4 separate regions of the Homo sapiens genome follow, and all the other regions are linked to region 2. The links come from fine-mapping of genetic effects on gene expression. A gene starts in region 2. Each other region holds a variant in brackets. All regions are shown on one strand. Distances are between the middles of the regions.

Region 1 (5,562 bases), 68 kb before region 2:
TGCAGTGTCTGCCTGAACCCAGCTGTCCCTTCAGGAGTACAGCCCAGCACAAGGGGACAGTGACCTCTGGCTGGGCTGAACACAGTTCTCTGCTGTGCGGGGCTCTCAGGCTGCCTGTTGGGGACTCTAGGAAGGTTCCTCGTGTTGCAGCACCTGACCTAAGCCCATGTGACCCTCTCCAGTGGCTGCTGGAAACTGAGTCTCTTGTCCTTCTCTTCCATCCATCCCATGACCCACCCTCATGCACACTCGCCCCTGCGAGCAGAGCCAGCCCTGTGTGGCATGGAGCAGCCAGCAGGCCATCTCCCAGGGCAACCCCAAAGAGCACCGGGCCTGGACAAGGAGTCAGGTGGGGTGGGAGGCATGCTGCGTTGGGAGGCAGCCCTCACCTTCCTCGCTGTAGATGGGCGCCGTGAGCAGGTAACTCTGAATCTTCTTGTCCTTCTCGAAAGGACACTCTACCTGTGTCCATGTCATGAACTCATGGATCTGTCTGGAGATCTCCCAGAATTTCTGAAGGGAGCAAAACCAACTGATGTTCATCTGTCACCTTAAGCACCAAACCCTCGGTCAGGGCAGGGGACGTAGGTTTTGGCCTCAGCCTCCTGCTCACTTCACTGGTCCCAGCAAGATGGGACAGTGGCCCTGCACGCTGACCCCGTGGCCATGGTGGCACGCCATGCAGCCTCAGAGCCAGCAGGTGTCCCCCAAGGCCACTCTGTCTGGCCCTCCACCTGGGCCATCAGGCCGGCAGCAGGGTCTCTGCCTGTCTGTGCAGGGACCCAAAGAAGGCCCCACTGATAACTCCAGCCTGAGGCAGGCACCCCATCCAAACCCAGCCCAGCGGCGCCAACCAGAACGTGTCATGATGTCCCTTCTCTGGGACCTTCGGAAGGATCCCAGCTCCTGCCCACACCTCACCTGTGTGAGGTAGGCATCCGGCAGCCCACAGCCACCTACACCTGCCCTGCCACCTATGTCCCACCCTCCCATCCTCACCAGGTGCCCTCAGGCCCACGAGGCAGGCTCTTCACTTCCATCTAGAATTCTCTGCCGCCTCCTCCCTGCTCAAGTCCCTTCCTATCTAAACCCCTCCTGACCTCCAATCCCACAGGGGTGGACAGGGCTCTCTCCCTGGTAGGGCCAGGCTGGAACCACGGTCCTGGATAAATACAATTCCCTGTGACTCCAAGCTCTGCAACTAGGCCATCCACCCAGAAGTACCGGCAGGCGCACCTCATACCTTGCAGTCAAACAGCACCCCGTGACCCACTATGAGGCTTTCAGTCTTGAAGGCCCTTGTGAACCTCAGGCAGGGCTCAGGAAACCCACAGATCCCGACCCAGGGCTAATGCCTGGCGGCTCCAGTAGCTCAGACAGTTTCCGCCTGGCCTGCCCTGTGCTGGGATGAGCTCACCTTAAAGTTAATGTGCCCGTTGGGCAGGTGGTTGGTATGGATTTTGTGCAGGAAGTAGATGTCCTTAACGAAGAGGTTGAACACAGGGATGACGATCTTTTCACGGCTGCTGTTGGCCATCTGGGACCTCTGCGTGGCCCCCTGCAGGGCTGTACGGTAGTTGCAGAAGTTGCTGGACGGGTCCATGTGATGCTGTGGGCACAGGGAGGACCTGGTGAGCATCACAGCCCCATGCCCCTCCGACCTGCTCCAGATGCCCCTCTGCAGAGCAGGAGGCAGCAGACAGAGAAGGCACCTGGCCCCTGGGCAGCCTGGGAGTTAGCACGGGGGAGGGGACGCCCAAGGGTGCCTGGCTGAGCCCTGGGGCCAGGGCTTCTGAGTTCAGGTCCTGGCATCCTCTGGAAAGCCACAGAAGTGTCACTGCCCTGCCTGCCAGGCCTGACCCTCGCCCTCCTTCCTTCAAGACTTCCCTTTGCTCCTCTACTTAGATCAACACCTCCCAGACCTGACCAGCTCCACAAGACACATGCTTTGCAAAAATGGACTCTGTGGTCAAACACATCTGAGGAAGGCTGCAGGTGACCCTGTCTGCCAGCCTCTGGGCCATCTAGACCAGCCAGGACCTGGAGACACTGACCAAGGAAAAGGCAGTGTCTTCCAACACAACCCCACTCTTGTCAAACTCTTGCTTAACCGCATTCCACTCTGGAACTCGCCTTAGGTGATGCCGGGTCTGCCTGAAGTAACCGAGGACAACTTAAGTCCCCACTGCTGGAGGACGAACATGCCAGGCCAGCTCAGCCAGCACTGTAGGTGCTAGCCCCAGGGAGAGGAGGGCAGCCCCCCACCCCCACTGTCAGGGCCCCCTTCGGGCCATTGCGGGACGAAATGGGTGCAGCTCGCAGCTGTGACGGGGCTCAGGTGCCTACCTCCAAGACATCAAACTTGGCTGTCTTGACCTTGGACCAAGTTTTCTTCAGCCTTGCCACAGGACTGAGGTTCATGCCAGCTGCAGAGGACAGCAGGTAGGGTCAGGGCCGGGGGGGTGGGCCATGCAGCAGCCCCACCCTGGGTGCCCAGTCACTCACAGATGATGGCCATCATGGAGTTGAAGTTCCCGATGTTGAAGCACTCCCGGGCCACATCAATGAAGAACTCCAACATGCGGGTCCGGTGTTTCTTCTTCACCACCTGGAAGGTGGCAGGTGACCTCAGCATGGCGCTGCCGGGGGACAGCAGGAGCTGGGGCCGCCGGGCAGAGGAACAGAGGGGCAGGGAGGACCTCGGGACTTAGCTTCTGGCCACAGCGGGCTGATCCAGGTCCATGGCTGCGTCTGGGAGGTCCAG[A/T]CATGTGCACGGCCTATGCTCAGGCTCCTCAGTCATCAAAGGGAAGGCACCATCTGCCCCAGAGGGCTGTGAGGGCTGGCAAAGCCTCACACAGGCAAGAAAAATGGTGCTGGGCACAAGGGGAGCACTCCACGGATGGGGTGTCTGTTGTCATTGAAGGAATCGCTGTATGTCGGGGTTGGGGGACCACCAAGGCCCTGACAATGCAACAGGGACTTTGTGCATTCACTCTTAAAGTTCCATCATCTAATTCCTGGGGCAAGATCAGGGTCTCACTGGGTGTGGGCATGGCAGCCACCCCACCATGTCTGCCATGGGCACTTACCCGGCACACCTCAGTGGCCACCAGCATGCTCAGGCAGTTGAACCAGTTGTCATAGGCCTCCAGGCTGTAGGTCTTGGTCAGGTCCCCTCGGCACTGGAAAGGACACAGCAGGTCATAGGGGGCCTGGAGGACCATGGCTGGACAACTTAGTCCCCACAGCTGGCCCTGGTCCCCAGCTATGGCTCAGCCTGCACCGCAGCAGCCTCAATCATGCCTGCGTGCTCCTTGCTGCCCAGTGCAGGGCTGGCAGGCCAGGCTGGCTCCCTGGCCCAAATCTGTGACCTCTCCCAGCATTCATCATCCATGACCAGCACAGCCATCTTGGAGCAGGTGCTGCCTCTTGAAGCAGGTGCTAGGAGGTCCAGTGCCACATCCATCGGGGCTCATGGCCCAGCACTCCGGAGACGCTCGGGGCGTGCTGAGTGAGGCCCACACCCACCCTGCATGGAGCGCAAGTGCTGGGCAGACAGGGCTGGCAGGGGTGCCACAGGCCTTGGCCCACTTACCCTGTGGTTGTCCAAGGAGTCCATGTGGCTGACGATCTGCATCAAGTCCTCAGGGTAAATGCTGCTGACCCTGTCCTGGGGTGGAAGATAGCAAAGGGAAGGTGACAAGCTTCCCCTGGAGAAGGGACAGCACTGCATAGGCATGCGGACAGGGAGAGGAGGAGCTGCCCAGGGCACAGGACCTTCACCTCCTCCCAGGCCAGTCCTCCATCCTAGGGCCACTGCAGTCCCCACTGCAGGACGACACTGCTCCAGCTCCTCCCACTGACACAGCACTGCTGTGTTCCTGAGGACGTGAGTGCCAGGCACAGAGGTGCCCGCCACTCAGACGGACACACATCTGGCATGAAGTGTGGCAGTCAGGGCTGGCAAGCGCACTTCCCTGATGGCTCAGTGTGACTAGCAGGGGCCTGAAGTGCTGTGCTGAAAGAGGCACTGTGGTCCCACAGCCCCCACCCCCAGTCAGGGCATAAGGCAGCACTGACCAGCTCAATGTGAGTCAGCTGCTGGGCCAGCACCAGGGGGTCGCAGCACACGCCCAGGATGTCCTTCTGGGCGGCTGGTGGCTTGGTCTTGAGGATGGGCCCCTTGTCTACAGCCGGTGGCCGGAGCTTCTCTCGCAGTTCCTGGAGCTGGCTCCGGGCAGCCAAGGACAGCAACAGGCTCTGTGTCATCTGGGCAATGGCCTTCTTCACTGTGCCATTCTCCTGTGGGGTCAAGGGCAATAAGGGTGCCAGCATGGGCTGGCAGCAAGGCCACCACCACTGTGGGTAGGATCCATCTCACCTCCAGGGATGTGCCTAACCAACGTGAGCCCACAGCCCCTATCTAAACCGCAGCCTTCAGGCCTTCAAGGACAAAGTGGGGCACAGCATGGGCTCCTCTGAGGACTGCTGAGGAGGGGTCTCAGTGGGCTGTCCTGCTGCAGGACGAGGCTAAGGGCAGAGACAGGCTCAAGACTGAGCTTCTGGGTCTGAAAAGCATGGCTTTTTCAGAGGCGGCCCACTGAGCTGCTTCCTGAAGCAGGAGCAGCCCATAGAACAGTTTAAGGCATGGGAAAGGCTTCTGCCAAAGCCAGGAGTCTCTGCCCCCTAGTTGGGAGCAGCCTGGGGTCCCTGGCTCCTCCTGGAGTACTCGGGGTGAACAGGAGCTGCTAAGCACAGGGAATGCTTCCACTGTGGAGGCCCAGTTGGCCCAGGCATCTCCAGTTCTCTCTCCACCAAAGGCAAAGGTGAAGACATTTGAAAAATGGGAGACCGGTTTAAAGCCTTACCCCCACCTCCTCTCACTAATCCAAGACAGGCAGAGCCTTACAAACTCTCAATAGGCTCCCACTCCAGGGACAAGGACAGCAAGGGCCAGGAGAGGGTTGAGACAATGATTGCCAGGCCCGCAACCGGGCTGCAAGGTCCCTGCTTGCAGTATCATGGGTGACCCTGGCCCACTGCTGGCCAGCTGAGCTGTCATCTGGGGGAAGGGAGGTTGAATGGGGCCAGCCAGCAACCCTCCTGGGGGAGTAACATGGAAGGGGACCACATACAGAGTTGTCCCCGAAGCCCCCACCCTCCCGAGGGCAGACCCTGGCACACACCCAAAGACCCTGGCCAGAGCCCAGGGAGCACTCACCTCATCACACTGGGTGACACGGTGTGTGATGGCTTTCAGCTCGGCCATGGCCTTCTCATCCTGGAAGTCATAGGGGAAGGCCTCGGTCCACTCCTTCAGGAGCTGCACGATCTTGGCTGAGAAAGACTTCAGCTTGGCCTGGGGCAGCAGGGGATACAGAGTAAGGCCCCACAGGGCAGAGTAGGGTACTAGATGGCAAATGGTGCAAGCTTCCCACATCCCCAAGCCACACCCCAGGCCCTGTGCTGGGCACAGCCCCCAACTGCGTGCCACCTGCGGTTTGGCCAAACCTGAACCGCCACATGACTCCTGTTTGGTTCCTTCTTCCTTCCCCTTAAGTT
Region 2 (7,763 bases):
CAGAACCCAGAGGACAGGTGGGGGCTGATGAGAGCTGGAACCGGATCAGCACGGAGGAGGGAACAGATGCTGTGGCTGGGTAGAGGGTTTGAGCCCAGGTCTTGAGGAACAGGGACTTTGAGTGTCCCAGGATGGGAGGAGGAGAACCAGGGGCCGGCCAAGCCCAGGAAATGGGTGTCTGGGAACAAGGCAGTGGACATCCACGGCCTCTCAAGAAGACATCCCTGGACTGAAGGAGGTGTGTGCAGATTGGCGTGGGTGGGAGTGAGTGGGAAGTGAGGATTCAGAGTGAGCAGAGAACATGTCTTCAAAGTCAGCCCGCACAGGCGACCAGGGTGCGGACGGCTGAGCAAGTTTCGTTGTTTTTAAAAAAGGAAAAGCACCTGTCAACCGGACAGCCACATCTTTGCATCCCACGTATGAAGTGCCCACCCTGGGCTGTTCTGTCTAGAGTCCCAGCCCAGGCCTCTCTTCTTCAAGCTGGTGCTGGCCTCTGCTCCCTGAATTCACAAAGAACCCCACAGCCAGCTCACAAGAGACAAGCAGGTCTCGGAGCCCCTGCTGGCTGCCCTGGGCAGCACAGGCCGGCAGCTCAGCCCCTACCCCAGCCCGGGCAGTGCCCAGGGCAGGGCGGGCAACCACAGGTGGGGAGAAGCTTCCCAGAACAGGATCACTGGGTGTCGTCCTGAGTTGTGCCCAAAGGCACCCATGTGCTTCCTGGGAGGTGCTGCAGCAGAGCCGGGACAACCGGACTACTCTCCCTGCCTGGCTTCCCTCTCCATGGTCCACCGGGCAGGGGTGGCCACAGCAGCAGTCACACCCCCACCCCGTCCATCACAGCACAGGCCCCGCTTGAGTCCTCACACCTGTCCACTCCTGGCCGGTCACCCCTCACAGCCCTCTGTCATGGTGCCTGGAGCAGCCTCTACCAGCCTGTCCCAGGTGGTGAGCCCTGAGGCCAGAGCCCCTCTCCCACTCTGAGCAGGCCAGGACCCCGAGGGGCTTTCGGGCTTCCCTTCACACAGTGCCCGCCAAGCCACTGCTGGCCATACCAGCTGACCTTCCCAAACCCTGCTCCCGGGCTGCTAGCTGGGGAATTCCTGGTGTCCCAGCGCGCAGGGACATTCTGCATGGGTTCCTGGCAGCTCGCCACTCTGGGCCGGCCCAGAGCCCACTCTCACATACCCACAGCCCCAGGCTCTGTGCCCAAAAAGTGGCGACAGGGATACACCCAAAAAGTGGGCAGTGAGCCCTCTCTGGACCCCCGCAGGTCAGGCTGACAGCCATAGGGGAGGGCCTCTGACACCCCCAGCAATCCACCAGTGGGTATCAGAGGCCCTCCTCTATGGCTGTCAGCCCACCAGTGCCACTTCAGTCCCCTCCCTCCGCACATCACACCCTTGCTAGGTAAACACTCATCCTCCCCAGCAGGGAGTGGGCAGGGGAGGGCAGAGGAGCCGGGAGGCAGGCTGGAGTGGGTGGGAGTTACAGGAGGCAGATTGGAAGCTCCAACAGAAAAGCAGCCAGAGTGCCGGACCCAAGCAGATGGCCTCAGGAGAAAAAGGGGGAAGGGGAGGGAGGGTCCGTCAAGGGGCAGCAGGGAGGGGTGGGGGAGAATGCCTTGAGTCTCCTCCCCATCTGCTATCTGCTATGCCCCTGGCACCTACCCCCAGCAGCCCAGCGCCCCTCCCCTGGGGTGGGCCATGCAGAGAAGAGCATCCCTCCACCAGCCCCTCTCCTGAGGACAGTGGGGGGGCCAAACCCCCTGCCCCCATCCCTGCCTTGGCACAGCACCTTCACTTGACCTATTTGACAAATAGGGCTTCTGTGAAACCCACGGTTCTATTGCCAAAAACCAAAGGCCAACCAAAGCTGTCCCATCCTGCCCCTGGCATCATTCTACAGGTGGGGACCGGCGTGCTCAGGGGCTCCTGGCCACACTGTGTCCCAGTGCCCACTCGCTCTCCTCCCTGGCTGGCCCCTCCCACCGCTGGGGGCCACTGTGTGCGTGGCTCTCCCCACCGCAGCCACTGTCCAGCACAAATGCCATTTCTCCCTCCTCCTCCTCCTCCCCTGCCTGCAGTTGCTAAGTTACACCAAAAAACCCCTCTGCTCTGTGTGAACTGTTCCATTTCCACGATTTGCCAGGTGGAAGGGAGCCATCCGGCTGGCAGCTCGAAGATGCCTCCCAGAGAAAAACAAACTCACTGGCTGGCCTTCAGGCCAAGGCACACCTGGGATACCTGCTTGGTTCACAAACCCAGGGGCATGTGCAGGAGGACACAGCTTCTCTACTTCACTAGAGAGCCTGGGGGATCCACACAGCTCATGCCCTTCTCAGGAGCAGGGAGTGTGGGCCTGCTGCACCCGCCTCGCTGGGTCACTACCACCCACAGCCCTAAGGACACACACTGGCTGGAGGGGCAGAGAACCCACCCACGTGTCCCTGGCCATCCAGCCAAGGTCCTCCATGTCCCCCTGCTCCGGATCTCCCCTTCCTGGGCTGGGGTCCTGAGGTTCCAAAGCAAAGTGTCACTGGACATCAGGGTGGAAATGTCCTCAGAGGTCATCAAAACCGTGTCAGTCTACAGATGGGGAAACTGAGTCTCAGAAGCCTGCAGCCTGCCCGTGGTTCACGAATCAAGACCTGTAGCCTTTCGGCTGGAGGCCCCCTAGAGCCGCTTAGAGTCCAGGGCACCGAGGTGGACAGGCTGGGCTGGCAAGACTGCATCCGGAGGGGGCGGGAGAACCCTGGGGGGACAGAGGGAACCAAGGCCTCTGGGAGGCTCCCCTGCACCCAGCCTGACTCCTGTGTTTCAGGATCCTGCGGCCGACGGCCATCGGGGCCCTTCCTGCGCAGGACAGTGGGAGAAGAGTGGCAGTGGTGGGGAGGGTGAACCAGGGAGAAGCTCACTGCTCTGAGCAGGGAGGGAGGGAGCCCCGGCCACCACCAGGTCTCTGCCCCCAGGTGGCTCCCAAGAGGCAGGCAGCGGCCTCTCTGTAAATATCCACCAGGTCCAGCACCCAGAGGCAGCCAGAAATGCAGGGCACAGGAACCTGCCAGCGCGTCCCTCCACACACAGCAGGGGACTCCCGCCCCCACCTCTCACTCACCGACCCTCGGACCAGAACCAGCTGCACCTGCCCCGTTCCTGGGGCCGGCAAGGCCTGGGGCAAAGAGAGCGTGGTCCTTCAAATGACCCTTGCCCAGCAGGGAGAGGGAGACACCTGGCATGGCCCTGGACCTCTCCCCCAAATGCAGAGCTCAAGCCCCAATTCCTCGCCAAACAGCAAGGGCGTGAGATACCACGGCGGGGCCCAGAATGCAGAAGAGCAAATGGAAACTTCCAACTGCGCAGCCCTGAGCTCCTCCGATTCCCCAGCCCCCACCCCCACGCCAGGCCCCGGGCAGCGAACCTGCCCGCAGTGCCCACGCCCGCCCGCCGCGTGCGCTCCTGCCACGCCCGGCCCGGCCCGGCCCGGCCCGCCAGGTGCCCTGAAGGGGCGGAGGGTGCAGGGGGTCCTGGCGCCGTCCAGCCCGGGGCGGAGTTCTCAGCAACTCCGCGCGCCGGGATCCCGGCCGCCCTCCCCGCGCGCGTCCCCCGCCCCGCGCCCGGAGCCCGCGCCCCGGCCCCACGACGGCCGCGCCGGGAGGGACCCCGGGCCCGCGCACGCCGCGCCCTGCCCGCGCCGGCGACCGGAGGGCACGGCCCCAGGCGCGGGCGGGGGCCCCGAGGCACTGAGGGTCCGCGGCCGCTGCCTACCTCGGTCCGGGCCAGCGTCGCTCCCGCGCCGCCCTCGCGCCGCAGTCGGGCCCCGAGCAGCGCGCGGCCGGCGCCGGCGGCGGCTCATGCTCGGCGCCCGGGCCCGCGGCACCCGCCCACCCGCGGCCGCCCCCGCGCTGCGCCAGCTGCGGGCAGAGCAGCTCCCTCCGCAGCCGGCGCCGGGGAGCGCGAGCGAGCGAGCGAACGAGCGAGCGCGGAGCGAGCGCCGAGCGGGCACGGAGCGGGCGCGAGAGCGCGGGGAGCGGGGGAGCGGGCGGGCGCGGGACGCGGAGGGAGGAGGGTGCGGGGCAAAGGTGCAGGGGGAGGTAGGGCGCGGGACGGGGCTCGAGCAGAGGGCACTGGGACAGGGCGGGCGCCGGGAGAGGGCGGCCAGGCTTTCATTTAAAAAGGATAAGGCATCACGCCTGTAATCCCAGCACTTTGGGAGGCCGAGACGGGCGGATCACGAGGTCAGGAGATCGAGACCATCCCGGCTAACACGGTGAAACCCCATCTCTACTAAAAATACAAAAAAAAAAATTAGCCGGGCGTGGTGGCGGGCGCCTGTAGTCCCAGCTACTCGGGAGGCTGAGGGAGGAGAATGGTGTAAACTCGGGAGGTGGAGCTTGCAGTGAGCCGAGATCGCGCCACTGCACTCCAGCCTGGGTAACAGAGTGAGACTCCGTCTCAAAAAAAAAAAAAAAAAAAAAAAAAAAAGGATCAGGCAGCAGACAAGCTAGGAGGCGATGCGGCCACCGCATTTAAAAGGCCCTCTGGGGACTCCCGCAGAGCTGGCAAAATTTTTGTCAGTGGAATCAGACGGTGAAAGCCCTTCTGTGGGCAAGTCCTGGCCCCTTGGGTCACTCCCCTTAACCATCTTAATCGCCCTGTAAGGTCGGTGGTGGATTTGTTCCCATTGGACAGGTTAGTAAACTGATGCACAGGGAGTGCGGTTACCCTGCAGGGTCTCAGAGCCTATAAGTGGCAGAGCAAGGCTCCAAAGCCACCTTGAAAGATTTCAGAACCACTAAAGCAGGACACAGGTCTTCTGGCGTCCACTGGAACTTCCTGTCGCTCTGAAGGGTCACCTTCTCTTGAACGGACACCCTGTGGCCTGACCCCAGGGTGGCCCAGAGTGACTCTTGCAGGCAGTCAGACGAGGGCCAGTGAGAAACAGGTCTGGGGCGACGATGTCCCCAGGTGGAGGGGTCTGTGTGAAAAAATGGGGAGGAGCCCCACAGCACCCCTTGAAGAGGCTGAGGACCTTGCTTACTCACTTAGTCCTTGTGTCTTGAACACCTGTATGCCAGGTGTAAGATGGGGCACTGGGATTCGGCTGTGAATGTCTCTGTCTGGTTGGAGTTTGCATTCTTGTGGGAAGTAGGCAGTGAATAAAAATACACATAAATAGTTCATGTGTCAGATGCTGCAGATCCCACAGAGAGGCCCAGCAGGGAGAGGGAGCCAGCGAAGGGAGGGGGAGGGGAGCTTGTAGGGTGGGGGATTCTTTTTTATTTTTTAAGGGGAGGTGTCACTGTGTGGCCCAGGCTGGAGTGCAGTGGCTATTCACAGGTGCAATCACTATGCTCTACAGCCTGGAACTTCCTGACTCTAGTGAGCCTCCTGCCTCAGCCTCCTGAGTAGCTAGAACTGTAGTTTCTCACCACCACCCTTCCCTGCTGGGTTGGGGATTTTATTTTGGGTGATCAGGGAAATCTTGGCTGAAAGGATCATATCTGAGCTAAGACCTAACTGAGGCAAGCTATGCTGAATCCGAGGAATGAACATTTTCAGCAAAGAGAACAGTACATGCAAAGGCCCTGAGGTGGAGGATGCCTTAGAAGGAGGCCAAGTGGAGATGAGTGAGTGTGGTAGAGAGGAGCCTGCAGGAGCTGCCAGGTGGACCATATCGCGAAGAGCCTGGCCAGCCATCAGCCCTCTGTGGCTTTGACTCAGAGGGAGGTGGAGGGTTTTGCACAAAGTAATATGATCTTACTATTTTTTACAAACAATATTTTATTATGTAAGATTTTAAACGCTTATAATAGTAACGGCTAAAAAGGTATATACAATAAACTCAATGGCCCAACTTCAACAATTATCAATACATGGCCAATTCTGTTTCATCTGTATGCCCACCTACCACTCCCCATATTATTTATTTGTTTACTCATTTTAAGTAAACTTTTATAGCTTTTTTTTTTTTTTGAGACAGGGTCTCATTCTGTCCCCCAGGCTAGAGTGCAGTGGCACAATCATAGCTCATTGTAGCCTCGAACTCCTGGGCTCAAGCAATCCTCCCGCCTCAGCCTCCCAAGGATAATTTTTTGTAAGTATAACATGCATAGACAAAAATCATAAAGTTGTGCTCCATGAATTTTCAATAAGAATACACCCATTCAGTGAGAATATTAATAGCTCTCTGCACCTGGATTTTCACTGTAGAAAGGTTTTTAATGACAGGTTCATTTTCTTTAATATATAGGACCATGTAGATTATTTGCTTCTTCCTATGTAACTTTTGCAAATTGTGTTTTTTATGGATTTTGCCCATTTTCTCTAAATTTTCAGATTTTCTGACATCCTCATATTGTTGTTTATAACATCTTTTATATTATCCCGCAGATGTTTGTAGAATCTGTAGCTATGTCCCACTTGGATTCTGATATTGGGGACCTCTGTGTTTTTCACTCTCTTTTTTTGATCAGTCTTGTTAGGGTTTTGTCAGTTTTATAATTTTTTTTAAAGAAACAACTTTTGACTTTGTTCAGCTTTCTCTGTTGTACTTTCTATTTCATGAATCTCTGCTCTTAGTTTCATTGTGTTTGTAGCTCTCCTTTGGGGGAGTATTAACTGTCTTTCTCTCATTCCTTCCTTCTTCCTTTTTAGTTTCTGAAGTTGGAGGGTAGGTTCATTGGTTTTCAGCTTTCGTTCCTACTCTATGGACTTAAAGCTATATATCTGCTTGTTAAGCACTGCTTTACTCTCTCTCTCACAATTGGTGTTTTTTTCTCACTATCATTTTGCTCAAGAGACTTTTAAATTTCCATTTTGACTTCTCTTTTGGCCCATGACTTATTTGGAAGGACATTGCTTAGTTCCAAATATTAGGGGATTTTCTAGCTACCCTCCTGCTGCTGAGTTCCAATTTAATCACACATCAGGCAGAGATTTTCTGAAATCTGTTGATACATTCTTTATGGCCCAAAATATGTTCTGTTTTGATAAATGCCCCATATGCCCTTGAAAAAGAGTGAATATTCTGTATATTTCAGTTAAGTCAGGTTGGTTAATCAAAGCCAAATCTTCTATATTGTTAATTAATTGGATCTCATATTCTATCAGTTCCTGAGAGAGGTGTCTGAAAATCTCCAGTATGGTCCCAAACTGGAAACAACCCAAAAGTGGCTGACTGGATAAACTAACTGTGTGTGGTGTATCCATACAATGGACAACTACTCAGCAGTAAAAAGGAGCAAGCCATTATTCAATACAACAACTTGAATAACTCTCAGATGCGTTAAGTGAAATAAGTCAGACTTCAAATGATCCATTGGACTTTTTTTTTTTTTTTTTTTGAGACAGAGTCTTGCACTGTCTCCCAGGCTGGAGGACAGTGGTGCAATCTTAGCTCACTGCAACCTCCACCTCCCGGGTTTAAGTGATTCTCCTGCCTCAGCCTCCCGAGTAGCTGGGATTGCAGGCTCCTGCCACGACACCTGGCTAATTTTTTGTATATCTAGTAGAGATGGGGTTTCACTATCTTGACCAGGCTGGTCTTGAACTCCTGACCTCGTGATTCACCTGCCTCAGCCTCCCAAAGTGCTGGGATTACAGGCATGAGCCACGACCCCCAGCCCACTGAACTTTTATATGACATTCTAGAAAGGCAAAACTGTGGAGATAGAGAACAGCTCAGTGGCTGCGAGGAACAAGTAGTAGGGGAAAGTGTTGGCTAGAGCCTTGGGAAATGTTTAGGCACCATGAAGAGTGTCCCTG
Region 3 (7,763 bases), 140 kb before region 2:
AAGTGGGGGGTGGGGAGTGGGCAGGGCAGAGGTTAGAGAGCCATCCTTGGGTGTGGCAGTAGATGCTGGGGGTCCTACCCCACTGAGGGCTGGTGGGCTTCCTAGGGGGTCTTATAAAAATGAGTGAGAGCAGAGACTGGTGCAATGCAAGCTCAAGGGCTGAGAGCTGTCCCAGCAGGACACTTAGGGAGGAGAAGGTAATTCCAGATGGCCCAGGGGGCACGTGTTAAGGGGTGCCTGAGTGGAGGTGCAGAGCCAGGCAGGGGCAGCCTGGGCTGCAACCTGAGAGGTTGAAACCTTTACACTCTCAGGGGAGATGGTCTTAGAAACCAGGCTGAGAACAGATGAGAAAGGGCTGCCCAGAGGCAGAGATGCATGGTACATGCATTCCACAGAGTGTGCACACTGCTGGGGCGTGGAGGGGGCATGCTGGGCCGAGAAGCCAGGTACCACCTCCCTGGGCCCCCAGCTGGTGGCCAGCTGGAGCGCTGTGGTCTGCCTGGGCACCCAGGCAAGCAAGGACGGTGCAGGACAGACGTGTGATTGCCAAAGGTTCTTGTTTGTCTGTCTCCACACCTAAAAGCCCTCAATCAATTCATTCTTCTTGAGAGTTTTAAGGACTGGCACTTCTCACTTAGCTGCCAGAGCAAGCATAGTATCCAGTGAGCTGTTTACCAGTGTCTTTGCAAGGGAAGTAAAAATGAATCTCCCTTGGAGGGAAGGGAAGCTTGTAGGATTCTGGACCACAGCTCTGAGAGACCTGAGCACAGTGGCCCACGGGCTGGGATCCTGCAACAGGCCATGCCCCAGTCCCACGAGGCTCAGAGATGTCAGCGATGCAGAAATAGCTTTGGAGTTGGAGACAGAGCACACTGGGCCCAGGGTACAGGGCAGGGTGCGATGGCTGTGGTGGGCTGTCCTTCTGAGACCTGGCCCTGCTTGGATCATATTGGCCTGTCTGCTCTTCCCACCAGGTACCGCCTGATGCTGCAATGCTGGAAGCAGGAGCCGGACAAAAGGCCGGTGTTTGCGGACATCAGCAAAGACCTGGAGAAGATGATGGTTAAGAGGAGAGTGAGTGCCTGGGTCCAATTCCCACAAGCTGAAAGTGGCTTGGGGAGACTCCAGCCTCACCCCAGGGCAGTAGTTTTAGCCCTCAGAGTTCCCAGTGTGGGGCCACAGTGGGATTGTGCAGAGAGAGAGAGTCATGCTCTCCCCTGCATGCAGACAGCAGATTGAACCCTTCTCAGGCCAGGCCGCTTGGGCTTCTTTTCAAGTCATGAAGAAACCAAGATTCTTGACATTTAGGAAAAGCTCTCTACAGACAGGCATGGGAGGAAAATATTCCAAAGCCAAAAAGAAATAGTTTTCCATAATGGAAAATGAGAAAGTTGAGTTAAAGCAAGTGCCCAAAATTCAGATGCCCAGAGGGGGGTCCGGCTGGAGGAGGGCAGTGAGTAAGGAGCAGTGGAGACTGTGGCAAACAGCCAGCCCCCTCCAAAGGGTTCCTTGCTGGAGTACCTGTGGCCTGCAGAAAAAGGAGCCAGGAATGGGCTGGGTCTTCTGAATTTTATGAGGTTTATGTTGTCTCCCAGTTTTTATTGTTAACAATTCATTTAAATTTCCCAGAGCCGAACGCAGGCCAAACAAAGCATATCGGGGGGTGGCCAGAGTCAGCCTGTGTGCCTGGAAGTACAGTTTGTGAGGTCTACACATTTTCAACCAATATTCATCAGGCAGCTGCTAGGACCCATACTATGTCTCAGAGGCTGGGAATGCAGATAAACAAGACCAGCACAGCCCTGCCCTCACGGGGTTTACACACAGGCCTTGTCTTAACATTGGCACATTTACTGAGTTGTCACTTCTTCCGACTTGGATAGCGGGATGCAGGACCTAGGACCCCATAGGAAAACTTCACATCACTGTCTCGCTTGGATGAAAACTTCAAGTCCTGAGAATGCAGCGTTGTTCAAAACAGAAGCGATCACTGGTGCTGGCCTTCCTAGAACAGTGCTGAGAAACAGCCGGGAAAACGCTGGGCCCCTCTGTGCACATTCAAGCTGGGCATTGAAAGGAGCAGACGCCAGTGGCCCCTCGTGCTGGGGAGCCCGTGCCTGTAGCAGGGTCCTGTGCACCCTGACAGCGCTGTCAGATTTCAGAACTCAGCCCTGACGTGACGTTCTAGATGGCAGGGGTCCTTGGGGAAAGCTGGAAAACATCCTGCAGGCTGGGGCTGCGTCCTGGCATGTGGCTGCAGTGGGCTCCCCCAGAGCCCAAGGGTTTGTCAGCGGGCTGGTTCCGTGCTGCCCATCTCCGGGTTGGGCCAGGGGCAGCTAGATGAGGCGTCCCCCAAGGCTGCCCTCCAGGCCCTGGAGATAAGACGCTGAGGGAGCACATTTCTTTCCCCAGGGAGGTGACTTTCCAGGGGAAGAGACAGAATAGACAACACCCAGGGGAGTGATGGGGACCTCAGAGCAGGACCAGGCCAGCCAGGAGTCCTGGGAGCTCTATGCAGCCTGGCCCTGGTCTCTTGGAGAGGTCAGGAGATTGGTGCGAGGTGGAGACACAGCCAGAGCCTCTGCCCTGAGGATGGCTTGTTGTATACTGAGTTGTATCTAGTTGTGGCACATGGCTTGGAGTGACCGGCCATCTCTGTCTTCCAGGACTACTTGGACCTTGCGGCGTCCACTCCATCTGACTCCCTGATTTATGACGACGGCCTCTCAGAGGAGGAGACACCGCTGGTGGACTGTAATAATGCCCCCCTCCCTCGAGCCCTCCCTTCCACATGGATTGAAAACAAACTCTATGGTAGAATTTCCCATGCATTTACTAGATTCTAGCACCGCTGTCCCCTTTGCACTATCCTTCCTCTCTGTGATGCTTTTTAAAAATGTTTCTGGTCTGAACAAAACCAAAGTCTGCTCTGAACCTTTTTATTTGTAAATGTCTGACTTTGCATCCAGTTTACATTTAGGCATTATTGCAACTATGTTTTTCTAAAAGGATGTGAAAATAAGTGTAATTACCACATTGCCCAGCAACTTAGGATGGTAGAGGAAAAAACAGATCAGGGCGGAACTCTCAGGGGAGACCAAGAACAGGTTGAATAAGGCGCTTCTGGGGTGGGAATCAAGTCATAGTACTTCTACTTTAACTAAGTGGATAAATATACAAATCTGGGGAGGTATTCAGTTGAGAAAGGAGCCACCAGCACCACTCAGCCTGCACTGGGAGCACAGCCAGGTTCCCCCAGACCCCTCCTGGGCAGGCAGGTGCCTCTCAGAGGCCACCCGGCACTGGCGAGCAGCCACTGGCCAAGCCTCAGCCCCAGTCCCAGCCACATGTCCTCCATCAGGGGTAGCGAGGTTGCAGGAGCTGGCTGGCCCTGGGAGGACGCACCCCCACTGCTGTTTTCACATCCTTTCCCTTACCCACCTTCAGGACGGTTGTCACTTATGAAGTCAGTGCTAAAGCTGGAGCAGTTGCTTTTTGAAAGAACATGGTCTGTGGTGCTGTGGTCTTACAATGGACAGTAAATATGGTTCTTGCCAAAACTCCTTCTTTTGTCTTTGATTAAATACTAGAAATTTTTTCTGTTTCCTAACTTCATCATTGATTGTTTGAAATCTTGGAGTTTCAAGCATTTTTTTCAAGCTGAGACGGTTCCTTTTGCATGCCTCCTGACTCACTGACTCCTCACTGGCTTTGTGTCTAGTGCCACACTCCATTTGTGCTGACGATGCTATGAGGCTGGCCCGTGTGCACCCTCGATTTGGAAGGTCCTCTTCTCCGTTGTAGGCTCAGACAACAGACGAGTGCCTCCTTTACGTTAGAGAATGTTTTAT[A/G]GAACGTTTCCGCTGCAGTAAGCCATTGAGTGCAGCAGTGTGCTGTTGCCCTACACTGCCTTAGAAAAAGAGTTAAGCAGTTCGACAAATATACATCAGATTAGAGAGTCTCAAGTTCATAAAAGTCAAAATTGGTAGTGTCTGTTAAGTTACATTTACCAAGAGAGCACATGATATTTCCCCTAACTATAACAGTGTTTTTGGAAACCTGGAACACAAAACCATTAATATAATTGGCACAGAAACCACGAGTTTGGTTTGAACATCAAAGGGAGTTTTGCCAAGGCCTTACTGTCTGCACTTGAAGTTTTGGTTCTTCAGTGCAGAACAAATGATCTGTTTTCATTTTTAGGCATGTCAGACCCGAACTGGCCTGGAGAGAGTCCTGTACCACTCACGAGAGCTGATGGCACTAACACTGGGTTTCCAAGATATCCAAATGATAGTGTATATGCTAACTGGATGCTTTCACCCTCAGCGGCAAAATTAATGGACACGTTTGATAGTTAACATTTCTTTGTGAAAGGTAATGGACTCACAAGGGGAAGAAACATGCTGAGAATGGAAAGTCTACCGGCCCTTTCTTTGTGAACGTCACATTGGCCGAGCCGTGTTCAGTTCCCAGGTGGCAGACTCGTTTTTGGTAGTTTGTTTTAACTTCCAAGGTGGTTTTACTTCTGATAGCCGGTGATTTTCCCTCCTAGCAGACATGCCACACCGGGTAAGAGCTCTGAGTCTTAGTGGTTAAGCATTCCTTTCTCTTCAGTGCCCAGCAGCACCCAGTGTTGGTCTGTGTCCATCAGTGACCACCAACATTCTGTGTTCACATGTGTGGGTCCAACACTTACTACCTGGTGTATGAAATTGGACCTGAACTGTTGGATTTTTCTAGTTGCCGCCAAACAAGGCAAAAAAATTTAAACATGAAGCACACACACAAAAAAGGCAGTAGGAAAAATGCTGGCCCTGATGACCTGTCCTTATTCAGAATGAGAGACTGCGGGGGGGGCCTGGGGGTAGTGTCAATGCCCCTCCAGGGCTGGAGGGGAAGAGGGGCCCCGAGGATGGGCCTGGGCTCAGCATTCGAGATCTTGAGAATGATTTTTTTTAAATCATGCAACCTTTCCTTAGGAAGACATTTGGTTTTCATCATGATTAAGATGATTCCTAGATTTAGCACAATGGAGAGATTCCATGCCATCTTTACTATGTGGATGGTGGTATCAGGGAAGAGGGCTCACAAGACACATTTGTCCCCCGGGCCCACCACATCATCCTCACGTGTTCGGTACTGAGCAGCCACTACCCCTGATGAGAACAGTATGAAGAAAGGGGGCTGTTGGAGTCCCAGAATTGCTGACAGCAGAGGCTTTGCTGCTGTGAATCCCACCTGCCACCAGCCTGCAGCACACCCCACAGCCAAGTAGAGGCGAAAGCAGTGGCTCATCCTACCTGTTAGGAGCAGGTAGGGCTTGTACTCACTTTAATTTGAATCTTATCAACTTACTCATAAAGGGACAGGCTAGCTAGCTGTGTTAGAAGTAGCAATGACAATGACCAAGGACTGCTACACCTCTGATTACAATTCTGATGTGAAAAAGATGGTGTTTGGCTCTTATAGAGCCTGTGTGAAAGGCCCATGGATCAGCTCTTCCTGTGTTTGTAATTTAATGCTGCTACAAGATGTTTCTGTTTCTTAGATTCTGACCATGACTCATAAGCTTCTTGTCATTCTTCATTGCTTGTTTGTGGTCACAGATGCACAACACTCCTCCAGTCTTGTGGGGGCAGCTTTTGGGAAGTCTCAGCAGCTCTTCTGGCTGTGTTGTCAGCACTGTAACTTCGCAGAAAAGAGTCGGATTACCAAAACACTGCCTGCTCTTCAGACTTAAAGCACTGATAGGACTTAAAATAGTCTCATTCAAATACTGTATTTTATATAGGCATTTCACAAAAACAGCAAAATTGTGGCATTTTGTGAGGCCAAGGCTTGGATGCGTGTGTAATAGAGCCTTGTGGTGTGTGCGCACACACCCAGAGGGAGAGTTTGAAAAATGCTTATTGGACACGTAACCTGGCTCTAATTTGGGCTGTTTTTCAGATACACTGTGATAAGTTCTTTTACAAATATCTATAGACATGGTAAACTTTTGGTTTTCAGATATGCTTAATGATAGTCTTACTAAATGCAGAAATAAGAATAAACTTTCTCAAATTATTAAAAATGCCTACACAGTAAGTGTGAATTGCTGCAACAGGTTTGTTCTCAGGAGGGTAAGAACTCCAGGTCTAAACAGCTGACCCAGTGATGGGGAATTTATCCTTGACCAATTTATCCTTGACCAATAACCTAATTGTCTATTCCTGAGTTATAAAAGTCCCCATCCTTATTAGCTCTACTGGAATTTTCATACACGTAAATGCAGAAGTTACTAAGTATTAAGTATTACTGAGTATTAAGTAGTAATCTGTCAGTTATTAAAATTTGTAAAATCTATTTATGAAAGGTCATTAAACCAGATCATGTTCCTTTTTTTGTAATCAAGGTGACTAAGAAAATCAGTTGTGTAAATAAAATCATGTATCATAAAATGTGTAAACTTTTTTTCTTTTTAACATTCTAGTTGGAAACAACAGATTTCTGATTTTGTAGTTTCCATACAATATTTAAAACATCACAAAGAATTCTATCATGATAACCACTGAGGCATCAATAGTGGTCGAGGACTAGGGGCTCTGGAGATATCGCTGGCTTATCTGGTACATTTGCGTGTGAATAGGCACATTGATAGAAACTGAAAAACTCAGCTAACTCCACTGTTCAAGGAATCCCTTCCTTAAAAGTGTCCATCCCTAGAACAAAGCAGCAGCCAGTGTCAAGTTTAGGTCTTCACAGTTCTCTAGCAATTTGCTTGTTGCTGATCTTTTGAAGTTGGCCTTAGAGCTGTGGGAGACAGAATACAAAATGCCAAGTCCTGAGGAAGGCCATTAGAAGTGTGAGGGAAAATGCTGTCCTGAACCACCATGAAGCCTGACATACTCACTACTTCTGTTTATGTCTTCCCCGAGGAATTCTCTGAGCTTCTCATGCCGGGCGTGGAGCTGATGGGTCAGTGGGCAAACGGGAGTTGTTGTCAACATCAGTCTCATCTGCGATTGCATTGTGTCAGATGCCAACGGCCTGTGTCACACACATACACGTGTGTATACGTGGGCCTTTGCACGCCTCGCCAGGTGGTGTACATGCAGGCCTTGGCACGCCTCGCCCAGTGCCCGCCCCAGGCCCATGAGGCCCCGCTTCCCAGCCGTGGGTGTCTGTGTCTGCTCACGGCTTCCTCCTTCAGCCTGGACCACGGGCTGGAAGTGAACGTAATCTCCAGAGCCAGCTGTTTGCTGTAGCCTTTACCTCTGAAAGTAGAAATCTACGCCAAGAAAAGTTAATGCTAAAAGCCACCCCTAATGTAGACTCTACATTAGGACTATTTGTGTGTGTATGTTTGCTGTTTTATTTTCCCCTAAAAACACATTTTCTGCCAACCTTCACGAAGGATTTCTTCCCACCACGAGGCCAGCTTATGTGGGCAGAAATCTAGTTGAATGTGCCTGAGAACAGGGCTTGAACAAATACTTCATACACAAAAGAAATTTTGAAGGGAAAGCATAATTTCTAACATATAAAGAAAGCCTCTCCCGCAGGCAGGTGGAGCAGTTAGCGGTGCCTCTCTCTGCCTCGGGTGCGTTCACGCATAGTGTCTGGCACACCTTGTTTTATTGCTCTTTGCTTTATTGCGTTTTTCACAAATTGAAGTTTTGTGGCAACGCTGAGTCGTCGAGAAAGTCTATCAGGGCCATTCTTCCAACAGCCCACACTCACTTCATGTCTCTCTATCAGTACTGTTAAGCAGTAAAGAA
Region 4 (7,763 bases), 41 kb before region 2:
CTCCTGCCTGCAAGTTGGCCCTTCCTGTCCGTGTGGCCCGGGCACATACAGTCATGCGTCCATTCGCGACGGGGATACCTCCTGAGAAATGCATCTTAGGCGATTTCGTCGTTGTGCAAACCCCAGAGTGACTTACACAGACCAGGATGGCACAGCCCACTACACACCCAGGCTCCGTGGTACAGCCTATTGCTCCCGGGATCCCAACCTGCACAGTGTGTGACTGCACTGAATATACTGGAGGCAACTGTAACACAACGGTAAGGATTTCTACAGCTAAACATAGAAAAAGCACAGTGACAATATCATATTATGAATCTCAGGGGACCACTATGTGGTGCATGACGCTGTCTTTTTTCCCAGCACACCCTCCTAACACTCTCAGAATCTCCAAAGTGGTAAGTGTCTTCTGTGTGCTGATGGACTTCTGGACAGCCTGGCTGGGGGCTGGTTGTCAGGGGAACCAACCATGTGATGAAAGGGTGGGGACTTTCACTCCCACCCCCAGCTCTAGGGACAAGAGAGAGGCTGAAGGTTGGGTCCATCACCAATGGCCAATGATTCAGTCAGTCACACCCACATAATGAAGCCTCCACAAAATCCCAAAAGGAGCGGCTTCAGAGCTTCTGCGTAGGCAAGCAGGTGGAGGGCCCTGGAGTGCAGTGCCTGGGAGGACAGGGAAGCTCCACGCCCCTTCTCACATGCCTTGCCCTGAGCATCCCTTCCTCTTACTGTTCATCTGTGACCACTGTAAAAACCTGCATAGTAAGTGGGTAAATGGAAGCAAGTGCTTCCCTGAATTATGTGAGCTGCTCTAGCAAATTAATTGAATCTGAGAAAGGAGTCCCAGGAGTGGTGATTTGCTGGGTGGGTCAGAAGCACAGGCCACAACCTGAGACTTGCAAATGGCATCTGAAGTCGAGGGAGGGGGACAGCCTTGTGGGACCAAGCTCTCAACCTGTGAGATCTGACTTCGCCTCCAATATTGTCCAAATTGAATTACAGGGCACCCAGCTGCTGTCTTAATGTTAGAGAATCTGGTATTAGAATGTTGTGCTAAATGGCTGAGAGTGGAGAGTAAGAAAAACACTTTATTGGTTTTTTTTTTATAACCCTATTAGAGGTAAACTCCCAAGAACACAAAGCTATGCCCAGGAAACACAGTGAGCACCTCTTCATGCTAGATTCACAACCAGAAATTGCCCAGCAAGTGGTAGATGCCCAAGGGATGAAAATATTGCAGTGCATGCTCTCTGGACAGGGGACCAAGATATGTGAAAAACTGTGTCTAGAAACAGAAAGGCACATTCTACTGTCCAGAGTCTCTGCCACATGGTCGTATGTTATACCACCAATGAAACCCAGTAAAGTCCCCAAATAGAAGTGTGCAGGTGAGAGAATGACATAAGCACAATGTACTATAGTTGGATATTAATATATAACTGATAAACAAAATACCCACTTCATAAAAAAAATCCCTAAATCACACCTGTGTTAAAGATTCAAATTCCAATTACAGATGTCAGAAAAATAACCTTTATAGGAAAACTCTGTATCGAATTTGATATGGCCAAAGCTGTACTCACAGAAAAGTTCATAGACTTCAATAATGTATTGAAGTAAACACTAAGCACTTGATTCAAAAAGCTTAAAAAAGAGCTTCTCAACAAAACAGTGAAACAAACTGGAAGAAGAAACTACTAAAAAGCAAATTAGATGACTTAATCAAAGAATAGAGTAGAACTCCTTATAAACTTCAAGAGCTGATTCTTTGAAAACACAGATTTCAAGGATAACCCTCTTGCAATTCTAATCAACAAAAGGAAAGAAGAAAGGGAGGGAGGGCCAGGCACCCTGGATCATGCCTGTAATCCCAGCACTTTGGGGGGCTCTAGTGAGAACCTGTCTCTATTTCTTTAAAAAAATTATAAAAATTTATTTTAAAAAAGAAAGGGAGGGAGAGAAGAAGGAAGAAAGGAAGGACATGAAAAATACATTGGGCATGAAAAAAGGGAATCTAACTCCAGATATGTAGAAGAAAGTTTAAAACAAACAACTACCTAAATCTGTGGTAAATGATCTGCAAGAACTTTTAATGGTTACTTATATTATCTAGAAAATATAAGTAACCAAAAATAGAGTAAAACTGTTTAGAACCCAAAAAGACCAATAACCATAGTACAAATTAAGTTGAGAGCCAACTAAGCCTCTGGAAAAAATAAAAGAAAGCCCTGGCTGAAATAGTTTCTAAAATGAATTATTTCAAGCCTTTGAGGATAAGATAATTTTATATGATATATAAACTATTTCAACTACACAATTCATATTGAAAAGCCTTCCTATTCATTTTATAAAGCTAAAATAGCATGATTTATAAATGTGACAAATATGTCTCCTAGTAGAAAAGTATGCATAAATTCTTACCTCTGAAAATAGTGAAAAATACCCTCAGCAACATAGCAACACATCAGTAAAATGAACTCAGCAGCATTTTTAAGCACAATAGAGCCTGACCCAGTGGGCTTTATTCCAGGAACAAGAGGATGATTTAGCTCAGAAGAGTTAATAAGTCAACACATTAATAGGTCCAAGGAGGAAAGGCATTTGATGATTTTGCTAGATATAGGAAAGCCTTTGATGAAACTGAATATCCATTCCTGGTGTGCACTCTTGGCAATTAATGTAGGATTCCAGCACACTGTCCTTGATGACGAATACCTATTGGAAATATGGGCCAGTTTCAGACTTAGTAAAACATGAAAAGCCTCCTCATTAAAATGAAGATCAAGCCAAAGACAACTGCTATTATTTAATGTTACTTTGCACCTTTTAGAAAACATAATAAGATAAGAAAACTAAAGATACATTAGAAATAAAGAAGTTGGCTGTTCCTTATGTGTAAGTAATATAATTAATTTCTTGGATTTTCCAGGAAGCCAAACTAAAAATCTGTTCAAACTAGTAAGGTATCAATAATCAATTACCTAACATAAACTTTTAAAAAATCAATAGCTTACTTATCTACCTCCCCTGGGCATATGTGTCTGCCCATAAGTCTGTGTGGAGCTGTTACAGAGATGCTCACACCAGTGGCAGTAGGGGAGGTGTGTCTGTGTGTCTCTGTATGTGTCTGTGTGTCTCTGCATATGTCTGTGTGTCTGTGTTTCTCTGTGTTAGTGTGTCTCTGTTTCTGCGTGTGTGTGCCTGCATGTGTCTATGTGTGTCTGTGTCTCTGTATGTGTCTGTGTGTGTGTCTTTGTGTCTCTGTGTCTGTGTGTGTCTCTGTGTCTGTGTGTGTGCATGTGCCTGCATGTGTCTGTGTGTGTGTGCATGTCTGTGTGTGGGGGTCTGTGGGGGGGGGGTCTCTGTGTCTGTGTGTTTCTGTGTGTCTGTGTCTTTGTGTGTGTCTGTGTGTCTGTGTCTCTGTGTCTGTGTCTCTGCATGTGTCTGTGTGTCTCTCTACGTCTGTGTCTCTGCATGTGTCTGTGTCTGTGTGTGTGCCTGCATGTGTCTCTGTGTCTGTGTCTCTGTATGTGTCTGTGTTTGTGTGTCTCTGTGTCTGTGTGCCTGCGTGTCTCTGTGTCTGTGTCTCTGCATGTCTCTGTGTGTCTGTGTGTCTCTGTGTCTGTGTGCACCTATGTGTGTCTCTGTGTGTGGGTGTCTGTGTATGGGTGTGTGTGTGTGTGTGTGTGTGTGTCCACGGATCTCTCAGCTCTCTAAGCTCCACTACCATCCCCCAGGAACACGATGTCCACAGTGGGCCTGCTCTGCCAACCAGCTCAGCTACCCTGAAGCCACTTTTCCTGGTCACCCACCCAAAACACCACACCACTGCCCCCTCAGGCTGGGCACTCTAGGAACATGCCAGTCCCTGTTTTAAGGACATCTGTTGTATGTGGCCCCAGGGAGGTCCCCAGAGAAGTCATACTCAGGTTGGGGCCAGAGTTGAAGGCTGAGCCTCCTCACCCACGGGGAGGGGGAGAGAGAGGAGGGCGGCGCTCTGACGCATACTTACCGGCCCAAGGCTGGGCAGGGGTGGCTGGCGGCAGTCACAGTGACATTTGGGAAATGCCAGGGGCTGGGTCCCAGCCCGGAAGGCGGGTGTGGGCGGTGACAGGGGTGGGGGC[T/G]GGGTTATTCCCCGAGGCTGAGACCACAAGACACCAGCTTTGCCAACAAAACTCCACTTGGCCAGTGGTGCCAGGGGCCGCAGGGCCAGGGCCCAGCCAGCAGCAGGGGCCAGAAGAAGAAACAGAGGGCCAGGTTCAGTGGCTAATGCCTGTAATCCCAGCACTTTGGGAAGCCAAAGCGGGCAGATCATCTGAGGTCAGGAGTTCGAAACCAGCCTGACCAACATAGAGAAACCCCGTCTCTACTAAAAATACAAAATTAGCCAGGCATGGTGGCACATGCCTGTAATCCCAGCTACTCAGGAGGCTGAGGCAGGAGAATTGCTTGAACCCCAGAGGTGGAGGTTGCAGTGAGATCATGCCATTGCACTCCAGTCTGGGCAACAGGAGCAAAACTCTGTCTCAAAAAAAGAAAAGAAAAGAAAAAAAGAAACAGAGAAGCTGAGGGGATCTTGGCTGCCATCCTCCTCCGAGATCCACGCCATCCATGGGCTCCCACCTGACTGTCCCCGGGTTCCCTCAGGAGCCCCCACGCCTCGTGTCCCATCTGCCTCTGAACTCCCATTGTCCTGGAACCCACAGGGACCCAGGCAGCCCAGAACCCACACAGTGGAGCCCTCATGACCCAGGAACCAGCTCTGACCCCTGACCTCCTGGCTGACCTCAGGCAAGACACAGCCCCTCTGGACCTCAATTTCCCCAGATGTAAAACAAGAAGTAGAGAGCCTGTACAGGCCACTTCCCGCCCTCATCTTTGTTCCTTCCTTTCTTCCTTCCTCCTTCCTTCCAGAACTTGTTCAGTCAAGTCAGCATCCCTTGAGGCCTTTGTGGCCTATGCCACACACTCAGAACGGAACAGCCCATGGACCTTAGTGTCTGTGGGAAGACAGACACAACTCCATGGCATGGCATGATCTCTTCAGGATTGGGGGTCTGTGCCGGGTGTCGTGGAGGCACGGAGGTGGGGAACTAACTCTGTAGGGAGTAGTCAGGGAGGGCTTCATGAAGGAGGTGATTCTGAGATCAGCTTCCAAGGATAACCAGGGGTTTTCCAGTGGGTTAAGGGGGAAAAGGGAGGTTGACATGACAGTTTGGTCTCCTTCCTCTGGTCACTCACCAGCAGTTCCCTGGAGGGCGAGGTCCAAGAGCCCAAAGGTGTGGGAGATGCAGGCAGCTTCCCCTGCACTAAGTCAATCCTCATGCATCCCACCAATGCCAGTGTGAGACTCTCTCCCCCAGGCAGCCCTTCCTGACTGCCTGCCCCCCCGACAGATGGCACTGCTGCAGCCCATGTGTCTGTGAGTATGTGACCCTGGGTTGTGCTGTCCCCAGTGCCCCCTGCATCCTGGCCAGGCCTGGACCCCCAATGCACAGAGGTGGTGGGCTAACATGAGAGGCCATGGCTCTGCTCTCCTTCCCCTGGCCTGTGCCCCGCTGAGGGCTAGAGTCCTCATCCCACCTCTCCTGGGGAAGCTGAAAGAAGGTGGCTCAAGCTAGCAGGCCCAGCAAGATGGGCTTTGGGCCTGGGAAGGCTGGGGCCCAGGGCTGTACTGTCCTGAGCCAGCAGGTGCAGGTGTGGGTAGGGTGGCCAGGAGGCAGGGCAGCAAGGAGCCTGCAGGGTGGAGCAAGCCAGGCTCTGCATGAGCACATGCAGCCTAGACCTCTCCCTGGACTCTAGACTGCCCACACCACTGCCAGGCAACACCTCTGGGGTGGGAAGTGTTGAACTGTCCCTGCTCCCACCTGCTGTGCCTGCCATCTTGCCCACCTCTAAGGGCAACACCCTCCTTCCTGCGCCAGCCTGACCTTCCCCATCTCAATGAAAACAGCCTACCCACCAGCACGGCCTCCAGGTGTTGCCTTCAGAATACCCCCAGAATCAGTCCTTCCCTCCTCCTCCTTCTCTGCCATCTCCCAAGGCTGGGATTCTCATCTGTCCCCGGACCACTGGGGTGGCACTCTGCTAGCTTCACCCCTCCCAGCAGCAGCCAGCAATGCCATGGCAGCCCCACGGGGAGCACATCCTGCTCCACCACCTCCCACTGCAGCCCCGTCACCCCCACTGGCTCCCCCAGCCACGCCACCTCGCTGGCCTCACTGTCCCACCTCCTCTTGGGCTCTGCTCCTGATGCCCCAGTCTCCAATCTGGCCCCAACATGCAGGCAGCTTCCACTTCAAAGCTCTGCCCTGGCCTTTTCCTGGTATGCCCCCCGCATAGCTCCCTCCCTCCCCTCCTTCAGCAGGTCCTGTGCACACGTCTCCTCTGGCCACCATACCTAAGGCACAGACAGCCCCCTCCTTCACTGGTGGTCAGCACGCTGGGCACCAAGTGTGTCAGACCCCTGGTTGCTGGGGGAGCAGGACTGTCATTGGAGGTCCGAATGAAACGGGGTGGGGCCGTGGGGTCCACCTGTCTCACAGCAGTGACTGGAGTACTGGGCTGGGGCATTTAAATGCCAGTGCAGGGCCCTCCCCACTCCCCTACTATGTGACCCCGTCAGCCTGGGTCCCTGAATGAGGGTGGCCTGGACCAGGGCTGACACCAGTGAGTGGAAACTGCACCATGTTGTGAGCTGAGGGACTTGGGGGCTGCTCTATCGCTGCAGAATGACCTGAACTACCCTCACCGATGAACTCCTCACAGGCCCTGCTAGCTCTCCTACATTGCTTCTTCTCTAGCCCTCAGCACCAGGTAGCACTCCACCCATTTTACCTACACATTGTGCTTGTTCCTCTGCTGTGTGGGCACCGTGAGGACAACACTCTCCGTGCTGTGGTGTTTGGTTCCCTGCTGAACCGCAGTGCCTGCACACAGCAGGGGCCCGATAAATGCATGCTGAGTAAGTGAAAGAAGGAAGGGACAGATGAGTCCTGCATCTTTCACGTGGCCAGGGCTGGCCGGGGCTCAGCTCCACGCTGTGGGCACTCAGAACCCAGGGGGCTGCCGCACCCGAATCACACCGCCTTACGCCTCTGGGGATGGGTCTCCATAAACAGCGTGGGAAATGCCAGTGCTCCATGCTCAGGTCCTCTCCAGGACCAGTTCTCCGCCTGCACCCTACAGCGCCCTCGCCCTGGAGCGCACACTCCTCGAAGCCCCACGGTGGGCTCCACTCTCCCTAAACGCACAGGCGCGCGTGGGGCTCACAAGGCACAGGCACGGCTGCGCTCCCTCCCATGTGCCGTGAATAAGCGCGCCCGCGCTTCCGCAGCCCTCCCCCGCCTGCACCTCACACAGACCACACACCGCGGACCACCCCTCGCCCGGCACATCCTCCTCAGAGCAACAGGTGGTTCTGCGCCCCTCAAGTCGTCCGGGCTCCTACACGCCCGTCCCCACCCCTTCCAGGCTCGCAGGAGCCACTGTGCTCTCGGCGTCCGCGGGCCGCGCCGCGAAGGGCAGGGCAGGAGCAGAGGCAGGCTGGGCGCCGCCCACCGGGCAGTAGGTGCTCCAGCGGGGACGCACAGAGGGCGGCGCGCGGGTCCTCAGGGCGGGCACCCTCCCGCACGGGTCGGGATGCAGGGGACCGTCGCACCCCTCCCGAGCCCGACAGCGCAAGAACCCTGCCCCGCGGCCTTGCGCCTGGGCCCGCCGCAGCCCTACCTGGGGCTCCAGGAACATTCTGGCCGCCGGCT

Evidence for each region.
Region 1: its variant is fine-mapped to the expression of RASGEF1A in whole blood (TOPMed, PIP 0.92).
Region 3: its variant is fine-mapped to the expression of RASGEF1A in whole blood (TOPMed, PIP 0.97).
Region 4: its variant is fine-mapped to the expression of RASGEF1A in stomach (GTEx, PIP above 0.99).

The regions. Positions count from the first base shown.
Region 1 is chr10:43,196,587-43,202,148 of GRCh38, forward strand. It overlaps RASGEF1A (RasGEF domain family member 1A), which reads right to left. Exons shown (of 13, transcript NM_145313.4): 4 at 5,222-5,359; 5 at 4,081-4,302; 6 at 3,596-3,670; 7 at 3,090-3,182; 8 at 2,506-2,608; 9 at 2,347-2,426; 10 at 1,418-1,609; 11 at 390-513. Among named protein-coding and RNA genes, the nearest start is that of CSGALNACT2, 61 kb to the left of the region's middle. RefSeq lists an enhancer at 4,861-5,362. The variant A/T (reference allele first, on the strand shown) is at 2,765.
Region 2 is chr10:43,263,081-43,270,843 of GRCh38, forward strand. It overlaps RASGEF1A (RasGEF domain family member 1A), which reads right to left and starts at 3,985. Exons shown (of 13, transcript NM_145313.4): 1 at 3,765-3,985. RefSeq lists an enhancer at 2,615-3,490.
Region 3 is chr10:43,123,909-43,131,671 of GRCh38, forward strand. It overlaps RET (ret proto-oncogene), which reads left to right. Exons shown (of 20, transcript NM_020975.6): 18 at 975-1,074; 19 at 2,667-2,814; 20 at 4,204-6,443. The coding sequence ends at 4,361. Among named protein-coding and RNA genes, the nearest start is that of CSGALNACT2-DT, 11 kb to the right of the region's middle. RefSeq lists enhancers at 6,426-7,026, 7,027-7,627. The variant A/G (reference allele first, on the strand shown) is at 3,852.
Region 4 is chr10:43,221,906-43,229,668 of GRCh38, forward strand. The region is part of intron 1 of RASGEF1A (RasGEF domain family member 1A); the gene reads right to left. Among named protein-coding and RNA genes, the nearest start is that of RASGEF1A, 41 kb to the right of the region's middle. RefSeq lists an enhancer at 6,135-6,945. The variant T/G (reference allele first, on the strand shown) is at 4,128.